3 separate regions of the Homo sapiens genome follow, and all the other regions are linked to region 2. The links come from fine-mapping of genetic effects on gene expression. Tissue or cell type: whole blood. Region 2 holds a variant in brackets; each other region holds the start of a gene. Each region is shown on its reference strand, or each on the opposite one. Region 1 holds the start of BMX (BMX non-receptor tyrosine kinase). Region 2 overlaps MNDA (myeloid cell nuclear differentiation antigen). Region 3 holds the start of MMADHC (metabolism of cobalamin associated D).

What was found. PIP is the estimated chance that this variant, and not a neighbour inherited with it, causes the effect. A credible set is the group of variants that fine-mapping cannot tell apart.
Region 1: it holds the start of BMX, and the variant in region 2 is the best candidate, but not a certain one, in a credible set for the expression of BMX in whole blood (TOPMed, PIP 0.74).
Region 3: MMADHC starts here. The variant in region 2 is fine-mapped to the expression of MMADHC in whole blood (TOPMed, PIP 0.94).

What each region holds. Positions count from the first base shown.
Region 1 is chrX:15,498,420-15,502,665 of GRCh38, forward strand. It overlaps BMX (BMX non-receptor tyrosine kinase), which reads left to right and starts at 2,388. Exons shown (of 19, transcript NM_203281.3): 1 at 2,388-2,521.
Region 2 is chr1:158,838,194-158,842,439 of GRCh38, forward strand. It overlaps MNDA (myeloid cell nuclear differentiation antigen), which reads left to right. Exons shown (of 7, transcript NM_002432.3): 2 at 3,941-4,225. The coding sequence starts at 3,961. It also overlaps a transcript of OR6N1 not described here. Among named protein-coding and RNA genes, the nearest start is that of MNDA, 9.0 kb to the left of the region's middle. The variant C/T (reference allele first, on the strand shown) is at 2,329.
Region 3 is chr2:149,585,546-149,589,791 of GRCh38, forward strand. MMADHC (metabolism of cobalamin associated D) reads right to left here and starts at 2,230. Exons shown (of 8, transcript NM_015702.3): 1 at 2,119-2,230; 2 at 1,544-1,604. The coding sequence starts at 1,552. It overlaps MMADHC-DT (MMADHC divergent transcript), which reads left to right and starts at 1,813. Exons shown (of 3, transcript NR_110240.1): 1 at 1,813-2,305. RefSeq lists enhancers at 1,441-2,640, 1,957-2,276.

The DNA.
Region 1 (4,246 bases), not on the chromosome of region 2:
TCATAAGCATATAGATGGTGTTTAAAGCCATGAGTCAAGTGAATTTTCTAAAGTGAGAGAAAAATACAGGTCAGCCACAAGCCAGAAGGACTCTGATTATCTCATTTTCTTTCTTCCTCTCTCTCTCTCTCTCTCTCTCTCTCTCTCTCTCTCTCTCCCTCTCTCTCTCTCTCTCTCCTTCCCCCTTTCTCTCTCTCTCTCTCTGACAATGGATTCTACCAGGTTCTTTTTTATTTTAAAAATGTAAGCACAAGTAAACAGGCTTGTTCACATCATGAAGTCAAATTATCCCATGCCATGTCCCTTTAGCTGTGGCCTGCTAAAGGCTTGCATGAACAAGCTTAGGAGAAAATTCCTAAAATTCTAACTGAGTAAAGATGACAATGCAGAGTATAATTTGAGTAAATGAAGTCATATTATCGTAATAGCAGATTGCCAAAAGTTAGGATGTAACTAAACTCATGGAAAATACAGAGCCAAAGAAACAGGAGAAGTAGCAGAGGAAGTGAATGAATAGAATAAAGTAAATAAATCTGTGACATTTTGCCTTAGAGGAAACCACTCCTCCCAGCTGTCCTTGGGTGTTTTATGCCCCCAAGAAGGGATGGAAATCCCAAGAGATTGTGCCCAGGTGTTTCCACAGTTATACCGACTGTATTAGTCCATTTTCATACTGCTATGAAGAAATACTCAAGACTGGGTAATTTATAAAGGAAAAGAGGTTTAATGGACTCACAGTTCCATATGACTGGGGAGGCCTCACAATCATGGTGGAAGGTGAAAGAGGAACAAAGGCATGTCTTACCTGGTGGCAAGCAAGAGTGCGTGTGCAGGGGAACTGCCCTTTATAAAACCATCAGATCTGGTGAGACTTATTCACTGTCATGAGGACAGCACGGTAAAAACATCCACTCCCGTGATTCAATTACCTCCCACTAGGTCCCTCCCACAACATGTGGGGATTATGGGAACTACAATTCAAGATGAGATTTGGGTGAGGACACAGCCAAACCATATCACCAACTCCTCCTTCCCCTACCCTAAGTTTACTTTTTATTCTAGAATCGAACTTTTGCCATATTACCATATATAAGTTGTGAAGTAAATACAAATCGCCATGTGGAAAAGGAAATTAACTAGCAGAGTGTAGAATTAATTTATTTAGCCAGGTTGTTGTGCCACTCTTGCCCTGCTTCACCCTTAATTTTTTGAATGACTACCTACTATATTCCTAAAGAATGGAGAGCTATTTGGAATCCATCAGTGACTTTAATTTGCTATTAGAATGTAAGTTACACTCTTTTGAATTCTTCTGAAGGACTCCTTTCCCTTCCCAAAATTCTAGTTTCCAAACTGAAATATTAAAAAATATTTCTGCAAGTTATTTTTCCCATACTCTACTGTAATTAAACCACTATTTGTGGTTCCCCCCCCCCCCACACAGACACATAAGCCCCTTGAAGATGTGGGCTGCCTCTCTTCTGTTTGCTCTTGTGTCTCCAACCCCTAACGGAATGCTCAGCACATGGCAGGTTCTCAAATAAGACTTGACTGAACGAATTAATAGAAATGATGCTAATTCCATGTACACTCAAAAGAATACCTCTTTGAAAGCCAGTAGCTTCACTCTCTTCTGCCAACCCAAGACTTCTTCACATCATAGATACTTACAAATAAGTTACAGTAAGCAACAATTTATAAGTAAACACAGTGTGTCAATGCATGCCAAAAGGATGATTACTTTTCTTGGCTATCCATAGCAGGACATAAAATATGTCCTTAGATTTATTACAGATGGCCAGCCGGTATGCACCAGAGAAAATAGTGGAATGGGGGAAGCCAAAAGTTGTGAGTCTGTCATAATGATGTCAAGTGACACACTTTTTCATTGCGATCTAGGTGTACCATACCTTAGCAAAAACAATCTATTTTCCATTTCTGGATTTCTTAATAACTTAAACTATATAAATAAGCTCCTTTTCCATCATATGAACTGTTCTTACATATTCTCTGGCCTTCCTTTGTCCAAATGTTGAGTTGAAGTTTTCATTGCATATTCTCTGTGCACTTTGCATTACCTAATGGTTTCCTGGCTCATGTGAGAGAAGTCAGCGTCAGCAGTCGGGTTTTGCCGAGATATTTTCTTGTCCTTTCCAGCATAGAGCTCTACAAACAAAGGCAGGGTTATCACATGTACCCGAGAGCTGCCTGGGAAAAGTGGGAGCTATAGTTATCAAAATTGGAAACTTTATGAAGTATGCTTTTGTCTCCGTTTTTGTTGCGTTCAATCAGATCAACAAGTGTTGGCTAAGTGTTGAGCGTGGTTTCCTGTGGGATTGTGTAAGGCTCTGTAGGACAATAAACGTGTTGGGGGCACTGAGTAATGTAGCCATTTCTGACCCGGCAGCCAGGAAAATGTGAAACAATTTGCTTCTGGAAACAGGACAGCCGGGGCCGTGTTCCTGCAACAGCAGACCAAGCACCGCGGCGGACCCAGGCAAGCACGGAACAAGCTGAGACGGTGCGTTTAAGCGGCAGGTGGCTACTCAGTGTCGCATACTATGCGGAAAATAGGTTTGGTTCCCGGTGTTGTGGGGCCTGAAGTTACAAACTTTGGGAAGCTCACTTTAAGAAAAATAGTACAACATTTTTAATATGAAATTGCCAGGGCTTTCTCTGGGACTTTAGATGGGACCAGGTAATTTGGAGGCCAACGGCTGAAACTGCTATAATTTCACTGTAAATTCACTCCTTGCTCAAAATCTCAGTTAGGGAAGCTCTCAGGTTGTTTATGTATCACCACCAGTTCTACCTAGCTTTGTGTGTATTCTCTGCTAATTTTCTCCATCCGCTTCTTTAGGTATTGCCTTTCCATAGCCTTTCATATTGGCCTCATAACTGCTTCCAAAGAGACATAGAAATGTTCCTTATACCTTCTTTAACTGTGTTTTTATGATGTTACTTTAGCTACAAATATTTGCTCTTAGGTTCCTGAGGTCTCCCTAAATCAAGTGCTTTGTGTATTTTAGATGGAGATAGACAGGTGGGAGGGAGGTGAACCATGCAGTTGTACTCATATCCATATAATTTTGAAAGATTTTGTGGGCCACAATGATTTCATTGGATTTGAAAAGGAGTGCAACTTTGTGGTCCATGTAAGTGCTTCTCAAGCTTTCCTGTGCACGTGGATCACCTGGGGATCTTGCTAAAATGAAGATTTGGCTGCGCGAGGTCTCGGGTGGGAACTGAGAGTCTGCATGTCTAATGATCGCCCGGATGATGCAAGTGCACGGACCACACTTTGAGTCACATCCAAGTATTTATTTGTAGGAAATATGGTGGCACAAATACACAGTCAATAAGGGTATGGTTCAACCTCATTTTATGGTAACTCGTCTCAGGATGGAAAGTCTGCGACAAACCTACTATGTATGGACTGGTGTTTGTTGACATGGCAATACATGAGGAGGTCTTCCTGCCTCCCATTTTCTCCTATACCCAGGAGCTGGGGACAGAGGGATGAGAAGTAAAATTTTATCATTAAGGATCATTATTATTTCACTGTCTTTAGTTTTTTAACTTTTTATGGTCCTTTTTAAAACTTTGCCTATGGAGTGATCAGAAGGGACATAAGCTTTTAGAATATCTACTAGGGTGTTGGGCATTAGGCTGCCATTTTCTCTTGACTACTTGTAACCCTTCGAAGTGGTTATTGTTTCACTGCCTTTACAGATGGGGAAGCTGAGGTTTAGCTGGGTTAAGTAACATGACAGATTCCATAGAGACAGAGCAGGGATTCGAACCCAGCTCGGTGCTTTCACTTGCACTAACCGGCATCATGAAAGCAGTGTTACATGTTTAATTCAGCATGAGATGCTAGCTCATGGATTTATTACTTTTTGCTTTTCTCCTAAGGAAGTTGCCCAGAGAGAGTGCCCTAAGCAGAGGAGAGGGAGCAGAAAGAAAGAGGTTACTGAAAAGAAGAAAAGACTTAGAAAAGCTCTATGGGGCACTGAAGATTAATCTCACACCTAAAGCAAAACTTAGCTCCAAAAAGACTAGCATTAAGATTCTTGCCTTCTTTGTGAGAAAATGATCTTCCCAAAGTGTCTGGTTTTTATACACTTATTTTGGATCAATTAAGGTATGATGCTCCAAGATGCTGAGAATTTGACTGTCAATGTTAAAAGATTTCTGTCCATATCATGCCAAGATCAACTTTAACTTTCCCTCTCCTGCATAACAT
Region 2 (4,246 bases):
ATGAGTTTGAGTTACCATCTAGCATCCTTGTGTTTCAGCTTGAAGAAATCTCTTTAGTATTTCTTTTAAGGTAGATATAGTGGTAATGAAATCCTTCAGCTTATGTTTATCTGGGAATGTCTTAATTTCTCTCATTTATGAATAGCAGGTTTCCCAGATATAGCATTTTTGATGGACAGACTTTTCTTTAAACACTTGAAATGTATTGTCCCACTACCTTCTGGTCTACAAAGTATTTGCTGAAAAATGTGCTCATAATCCTATTGAAGATTTCTTGGATATAATGAGTTGCCTTTTTCTTGCGCTTTTTAAATGATTTTCTTTTCGTCTTTGAGTGTTGGTAATTTGATAATAATGTGTCATAGTGTAAGTTTCTTTGAGTTTATCATAGTTGCAGCTTGTTTGGTTTCTTATATCTGTACATTTAGTCTTTTCTCAAATTTGGAAAGTTTTCAGTCCTTATTTACTCAATAATTTTGTTATTCCTTTCTCTTTTCCATCACCTTTTCAGACTTACATAATGCATATATTGTCCCACTTGATGAACTTTATAAGTTCTGTTCACTTTCCTTTATATCTTTTAAAAAAGTTTGTTCTTCAGCCTTGATAATTACACATGACCTGTCTAAAAGCTAACTGATTCTTCTGCCTATTGGTGTGGGCTGAGGAACCCCTCTAGTGGATTTTACAATGCAGTCAATGTGTTTTTCAGCTTCAGAATTTATGGAATTTTTTCTGGTAATTTCTATTTTTTGTCTATTCTCATTTTTTATTAATCATTTTCCTGATTTTATTTAGTTGTCTCTACCTATTTTCCTTTAACTCATTTATCATATTTAAGAGTGCTGTTTTAGTCTTTGACAAGAAAGTCTGAGGGCTGTGTTTCTTTAGAGAAAGTTTGTGGAGATTCATTTTTTTCTTTAAAATTGACCATGTTTACCTGTTTCTTTGTATACCTTTTGTTGAAAACTGGACATTTGTAAAAACAGCCCCCTCTCAACCATTGTTAACTGGCACCATATTCAGGGGAGGACTTTCACTCTTCAGCTAAGTATGAAATATAAACGTTCTCTGAGGCCTATATGGACGTGTGTCTTGCCTGGGCTTATGTGTGTGCATTTTTTGTAATTCTCTCATATACACACTGCTTTTAATCTGTAATTTCCCTAAGAGCCACACCTGCCTCTTTTCATGACCTTAGATGTTCTACTGTATTCCTCTATCCATAATCTCTTGCCTTCTGGCACCCAGGGAGTAGCAGATCCCATGAAGCTCTCACAAGCTGGAGCACCCACCACTACTTTTTGCAGCCTCAAATCTGACATTTAAACTATGCCACCATTTCCATCAATGCTCCAAGTCATGTGAAGCAGTTACTAGTCCCTCAAGGAACCTACAGAGAAGCTATAATGTTGCAAAGCAGTTCCACACTTTTCCTTCTATTCCAAAGGAAGAATGAGGAATTAGGAAGTTTCCTCCTGATCACGTCACACCATTCAAGGGAGAAAGTTAAACAGGGACAAAGAAAAACACCTAGAAGTTTTCCACTATTTTGAATGTGGCTTAATCTTGGTTTGGAATTTCCTTTGTTGCAACCAATTCTTAACAGCTGAAAACATTAGTTTGGTTCATAAATTGTTCTTTATTTGGTGTTTCCATGGTATAATGAAAGTCTGGAACGTCCTTGTCTGCAATCTTGCTAATGTCACTCTCAGTGAGAAGAGAACAATTTTTTAAACCATAACATTCAAATAACATTTTGACCAGATACAAAATTTTAGTTTGAAAAATATTTTTGCTTGAAAACTGATTCACAGCACTTCACCTGAAACCCCTGGGACAACTCTGATTTTTAATTCATTTTTTTAGGGGGGGATTTTAGAAAGACTACTTAATGCATACATTGTATGTAGGCACTGCAAGTGTCCCAGTAGAGGTAATATCAACATCCTAATATCAAATGCATTAAGAGTTCTTCAACAAATCATGCCACTATTCACATTAAAGTGAGATGAATAAGGAAGATTAAAAATAGCCACTGTATTAGTTCCTTCTCACGCTGCTATGAAGAAATACCTGAGACTGGGTAATTTATAAAGAAAAGAGATTTGATTTACTCACAGTTCCGCACGGCTGGGGAGTCCTAAGGAAACTTACAATCATGATGGAAGGCACCTCTTCACAGGGTGGCAGGAGAGAGAATGAGTGCTAGCAGGGGAAATGCCTGATGTTTATAAAACCATAGATCTCATGAGAACTTGCTCACTATCACAAGATGATATTTCAAGATGAGATTTGGGTTGGGACATAGCCAAACCATATCAGCCA[C/T]GTATTACTTCACATTATATCTCTAATTTGCAAGATGATTTTGCTACCACACTTCCCTGCTAACTCTCATCCCTTCCCAAGCCCCCAAACCGCACAAATCTTTTCATCCTTCAGTATCTTCTTAGGTTTTAAAATTGCAGACATATAATTATGGATCAGTACTATGTAAAAATTACTTTCTTAACCTGCTGCAGACTGTTCAATCAGATTATTTAATCTTTGTAGGTGTTCTACTCAGTATTTCTGGAAGATTTTATCATTTTGCTTTTAATATTCTTTGGCTTTACTATATGTGCCCATGTGTGAAATTTCTCTTTATCTGATAGGTTTAAACACAGGAACACTCATGTTCTCCCAAAAGAGAACAATTTACAGCCCTAAGAATTTGGACACTCTAATTATATAAAAGTTGCACAAACACATGGTCACCAACCTAAAGGAATACCTATAAATTTAAACAGAAAATTGGAATATACGTTAGGAACTGAATGCCCTTAGGTAGTACACAAGGGGTTAAAGAGGCACACATAAGTGAGAGTGGGACCACAACAGCTCGCAGAAGATAAAGCCTCAATTAAGCATTAAAAACTCTAAGGAAGTATTCAGAGGAAGAAAACTGGGAATGCTTTCCCAGATAGCAGGAAGGGAATTAGCAGTAAGAAGACCTGAAAAAGAAAGACATATTGTGTATTTCTAGAGCATAAGGTATAAGAAATTCAAAAGTAACAGACACACACAAAAAGAAAGATACAGTTTATGCAAGGCCTTTCAAGTCATGCTGAGTAGAAATCTATACTAATAAAAATCAAAACTCATTGAAGGATTTCAGGAAAAATAGAGTCATGTCTTTATCCATAAAGAAACCTACTTGGTTGTCTGACAGAAACCTTTTAGTAAAAGTAAGACTAGTTGGAGGTAAATAATTGACTGTAAAAAACAAATGTGCAAAAAATAAATGCTGCAATTCCACACTAGAGAGCAGATAGGAGGATGGCAAAATGACAATTTTATAGATGCATAGGACACAGAGAACAAGTTCTAAGCCCCAGGGAGAAAAAGTGCTAACGAGAGCTGATTAGGGAGAGCCAAGAAGGACTAGAGTCCATTCCACAACTCAGAACTGTAGTGCTGTGGCAGAAGGTTATTCACATAAGGTGAGTGGCTGCAGCCCATTTATACTTAGGCCACTTTGGTCATAGTGGATGACCAGGAAGAATCAGGGAAGAATCAGGGAAGAATCAGGAACCAAGAGGTAGGCATTGAGGGATAGGCTCAGGCCCCAATAAAATATCAGAAGAGGAACCAGGGACTTTGACACCACAAAACCCATACTATAAATACTGCAACAATTACCTGTTTCCAAACATCATTTCACCACATACACCTCTGTCCCAACTTATCAACATTAAAAGGGAAGAACTTCACTGAACCTCCTAATAAAGCAAGTCTTGATCCATTGTTCACAGTGACATATCTGGTAACTTAGTCCCTTTTTCTTATACGCATCCAAGGACAACATTTTGGCCTGGGACACTCACTCACAAAAGCATATCTCATTTTTTAAAATTGTCTGCATAAATGTGTAATGTTGTGTGTCATTTTTACTTTATAGGCCAAGCTATAACATCAGAAATGGTGAATGAATACAAGAAAATTCTTTTGCTGAAAGGATTTGAGCTCATGGATGATTATCATTTTACATCAATTAAGTCCTTACTGGCCTATGATTTAGGACTAACTACAAAAATGCAAGAGGAATACAACAGAATTAAGATTACAGATTTGATGGAAAAAAAGTTCCAAGGCGTTGCCTGTCTAGACAAACTAATAGAACTTGCCAAAGATATGCCATCACTTAAAAACCTTGTTAACAATCTTCGAAAAGAGAAGTCAAAAGGTAATAGAGAAAACCTTGCAC
Region 3 (4,246 bases), not on the chromosome of region 2:
TCTTGAAAACTCAGAAGATCTGGCAGTATTGGATTCACATAACCAAATGGCATTAGTTAGCAACAAATCACTGTAGCTAAGGAAAGGTTGCTCCCCTTTGTTCAGAAAGGCTTTGTCACAGTCCCCATGAAGGCTTCTTAATGTACCTGTCTAGACTCTGAAACATGAACATTCTTGCCCCTTGTTATGAAACACTATCTGCATATTTCATTAGTAACATCCATCCACAATTTACAATCCATATAAATTAACACAAAAATTGTTATCGTACATTTGGATACTGAAACTTAAATTTATTTTAATATGAACTTCTTTCTAACAAAAGACTTATAAAAGGATCTTCCCTACTGAACTATTATAATTTATTCATTTAAACCAAAATAAAACCAGGTCAAATAATAGCATTCTATTCTACTTCAATTAATTTCTCTCCTTTGAAAGTACCACATACTTCTTTTACAGCATTCTCTTTCTGTGCAGGTTATGGGCAGGCAAAAATTCACCATAGAACTTGGCCAAGACTAGTAATCTATTCTTATGACTTGTCTCTATAGTCACACTTTAGACTTAATATACCATGTTCAATTACAGAAATAGCATCCTGGCTAAATGCTGCCATATAAATCTTCCTAGCACACAGCTCTAAGTGAATAATCACAATTTAAAGAATGAAGTCTAAATTACTGAGTTCGGCATTCAAGGCTCTCATTTACTTGGTACCAACCTCACAATTCAACCTTATCTCCCACTTATCTCTTTCATGCAGCTTACATTCAGGTTGGCAGGCAGCAGTCACTTTTCAGTTTTTCAAAGGGGTAGGCGGGTTGGGGAGTTCTTTGAATATACCTTCCTGTCCTTCCCGCTCATATTTTAGACTATACAAATCCCACCTATCTTTCAAACCTCAAGTTAAATGTTTCCCTCATGAAGTGATCCCAAACTCCTCTCCACAAAGACTTGAATCTGCATTGCACCTTCGTGTAGGTTCTAAAAAAAATTATTACTTTATACTTTAATTGTAGCTGTTTTTATATATGTCTTATGACCGCTACATATGAATTCTATAGATAGGATGTGTCTAATCACTGCAAAGTTACAGTCAATAAATATCTCTGGTGTGTGAGAGTATCTCCTATTCTTATTTTGTAGGATTTAGAAGGTCACTTCCAATATGGAAACTGTTTTAAAAAAAAGAAAAAAAGATTAAAAAAACCCTTCAGTTTAGCTAACCCAAAAGCTAAAAAAGGGCCTAAACATAGATTCTAATATTTACTGAAACGCTGTATTTAAAAAATACCGAAAGGGTGCTTGAATTTCCACATCTGTACAAATGAAATTGTATAAATAAGTGTATTTGCAGTGCAAAGAATGCTACCATCTTCAAAGCATAACATAATTTCACACCACTTGCTTCCCTTGACATTTTTGATACATTATATCTAACACTATACCACCCAATGCCATCATAATTAAACCCGTTCTTTCATTCCTAACATTCCCAAACGAGTTTACTATGCTGATTCTTAAGAGATAATTTACTCACATTGGCCATCTCCGCTGGAGAAGATAGTTCGCAAAATAGCTTTCCTTTGGTAAAGTTATTTCTGGGAAAGAACACAACAAAACAGACGAGTGATCGATTAAACTCTAACAACAGACAACTGAGGTAACGTCCACTCTTCGAAGGTGTGTCGTCCACCACGTCAGGACCAAAGTCCAAGCTCTCCCCGTACCCTAAGGAGGCCAGAACTCGCCCCCATGCCAGGCACAGATCCCCCAGCCCGGAGCCGGCAGTGCAGCTCAGAGCCCTTCCGGTTTACAGCCGCGGAAAAACAACTCGGACCAGATCCGGGAGGGGAATGGGGGCTGGGTGGCCAAAATTCAGTCCAGAGGATCGAAGCGGCTGCTTTAACAGAAGTTGGGGCTGCGTAACAACAGCTCCAAGCAAAGCTTCAGGCTGATCGGAAAGATGAGGAAGCAGAAAAGAGACTAAAGACAGACGGACAGGATGGCTGGGGACAACGACAGGGACCCAGTGAAAATACGGGCAATACCGAGGGCTGTAACCCTAACACGGGCAAATTTGGAGGGGCTAACATGGGCGGAAACCATCCGTACCAGTCACCACCACTGTCTCCAGCTGTCCCAGAACCGGACTCTTCCTGCCATCAAAATGGCGGCGGCGACGGCAGCGGTGGTAGCACCTACGCTGGCGGTGAGCAGGCAAAGGAAGTTGCTTCCGAGCGCGTCGAAACGATGATGCGCACGCGCAAAGTAGGCCTACGTGGAGCCGACCTGCCATTGGGTAAACGCAAGGGAGGAGAAAAGGTGGGGCAGGGGTGATTTGGGTGGATGGATAGGAGGGCTTCCGACCTGCGTTAGGCGGGTCAGTTAATCTTCAGTAACTCCTTGATGCGTTTGATAGTCCTCCCAACTTAAGCCTTCCTTACTGCCTCCAGGAGATACAGTCTTCTGTTCTTTTTGTCATAGTTGTTTATTTTTCATGAATCGCTGTTTTTGAGCATAGGGCACTTACCTCTTTCTGTGTCCCCAGCCCTACCACAGTGCCAGGCTCTCAATATGCTCGATAAATATTAGGCGATTGATTTGTAAATCGTGTATCATTTTCATGTATCTAATACTTTTTTAAAAATTGATTAAAGCCCATAAGCCCATATTTTATTCCAGATGTCCTTAGTTTTCGACCTGGTATTCTTTTCCATTCCAGGATCCTGTCCGGAGTACATCACCATGTCTTCCAGGCTCCTCTGGACCGTGACCGTTTCTCAAACTTTCCTTGTTTTTGATAACCTTAATAGTTTTGAAGCGACTTATTGGTCATTTGGTCAAATGTCCTTCAATTGGGTTTTGCCTGTATTTTTCTCATGCATTAACTGAGGTTATGGGTTTTTCTTGAGTTAAGAGGTAAGGTAAAGTGATCTTCTCATCACATCACATCAAGGGTATATACTATCAACATGACTTATTACTGTTGATGCTAACCTTTATCACCATTATTACAGTGTCATACAGAAAAGTTTTATAGTTCTACAAAGATCCCCTTTGTTTCATCTAGTAAGCCCTTCCACCTCCCTATGTAGGGTTTGTCAGGTTTCTCCACTGTGAAGTTACTGTTTTTCTTTTCCTCTCCATACTATACTATTTGGAAGGACATCTCTCTGTGCAGCCCAAACTATAGGAATGGGAAATTGTTATACTCCACCTTTATGAGGACAGAATATCTTCATGAATTATTTGGAATTCTTCTGCATGGGAGATTTGTCTGTACTGCATTTATTTATGTATTCAATCATTTATGTCAGTATGGACTCATGGATATTTATTTTACATTTTGGGTTATAATCCAATACTACTTTATTTTGTTGTTCATATTGGTTCCAGCTTTGGCTATTGAGATTTCCTTTAGTTGGCATTTGTGTCTTTTTGACAAACCCTCCTCGTTTTATGTTTATTGATTTTTTTTCTTGAGCATTTTCTTAATTTCTATAAGTTGCTCCAGGCTCATCTTGTATATTCCCTGCCCCAATCCTAGAATCAGCTGCTTCCCCAAAAAGCCAAGGGTACTTTTAATGGAAAATGATATTAGAAATCAAGATTTGGACATTTGGGATGTTGTTGCTTCTAGACACTCTCAGCTGACAGAGCAAGGAAATATTTGTGGATATGCTAACCTGACTAAATACGCATATCTGTAAGTATTTATATATGTATCCATCTGTATCTTTGACAGCTACACAGGCGTTCTAGGTTCAAATACTAGAGCTGTTATCTTCAGTTCAATTCCAGCACCATATGGATCATTGCAGCCTTCTCCCCTTGCTTGTCTGTAGCCTTCCACTCCAGTGTGAGACACCTGGCTCTCATCATCTGCCATCCATTTACCTAATTGTTCAATTCCAGGTTACGTGTATAATGGATTCAGAACCGTCAACCCGTATTCAGAGTACATGTATAGTTGTTTCTGAACTGTTATCAGGTATACCTGTGAGAAACAGATTTACCAATTAGAGTACAATGCTTATGTATAGTTCTTTTGCTTTTAATCTTATAGATTCCACTTATTTTCAAAGTTACTGAAGTCAGCAGCCCTCCCTCCTACCTCTACCCGGCCTCAGTGAAGTTATTTTATATGCTCGTAATACAGTTGTAATCTTTTGCCACAATCTGCATTACTCCTGGGATTCTTTGAGTTCCTAAGATTTTTTAAAAAATCTTCCTCCGTTTA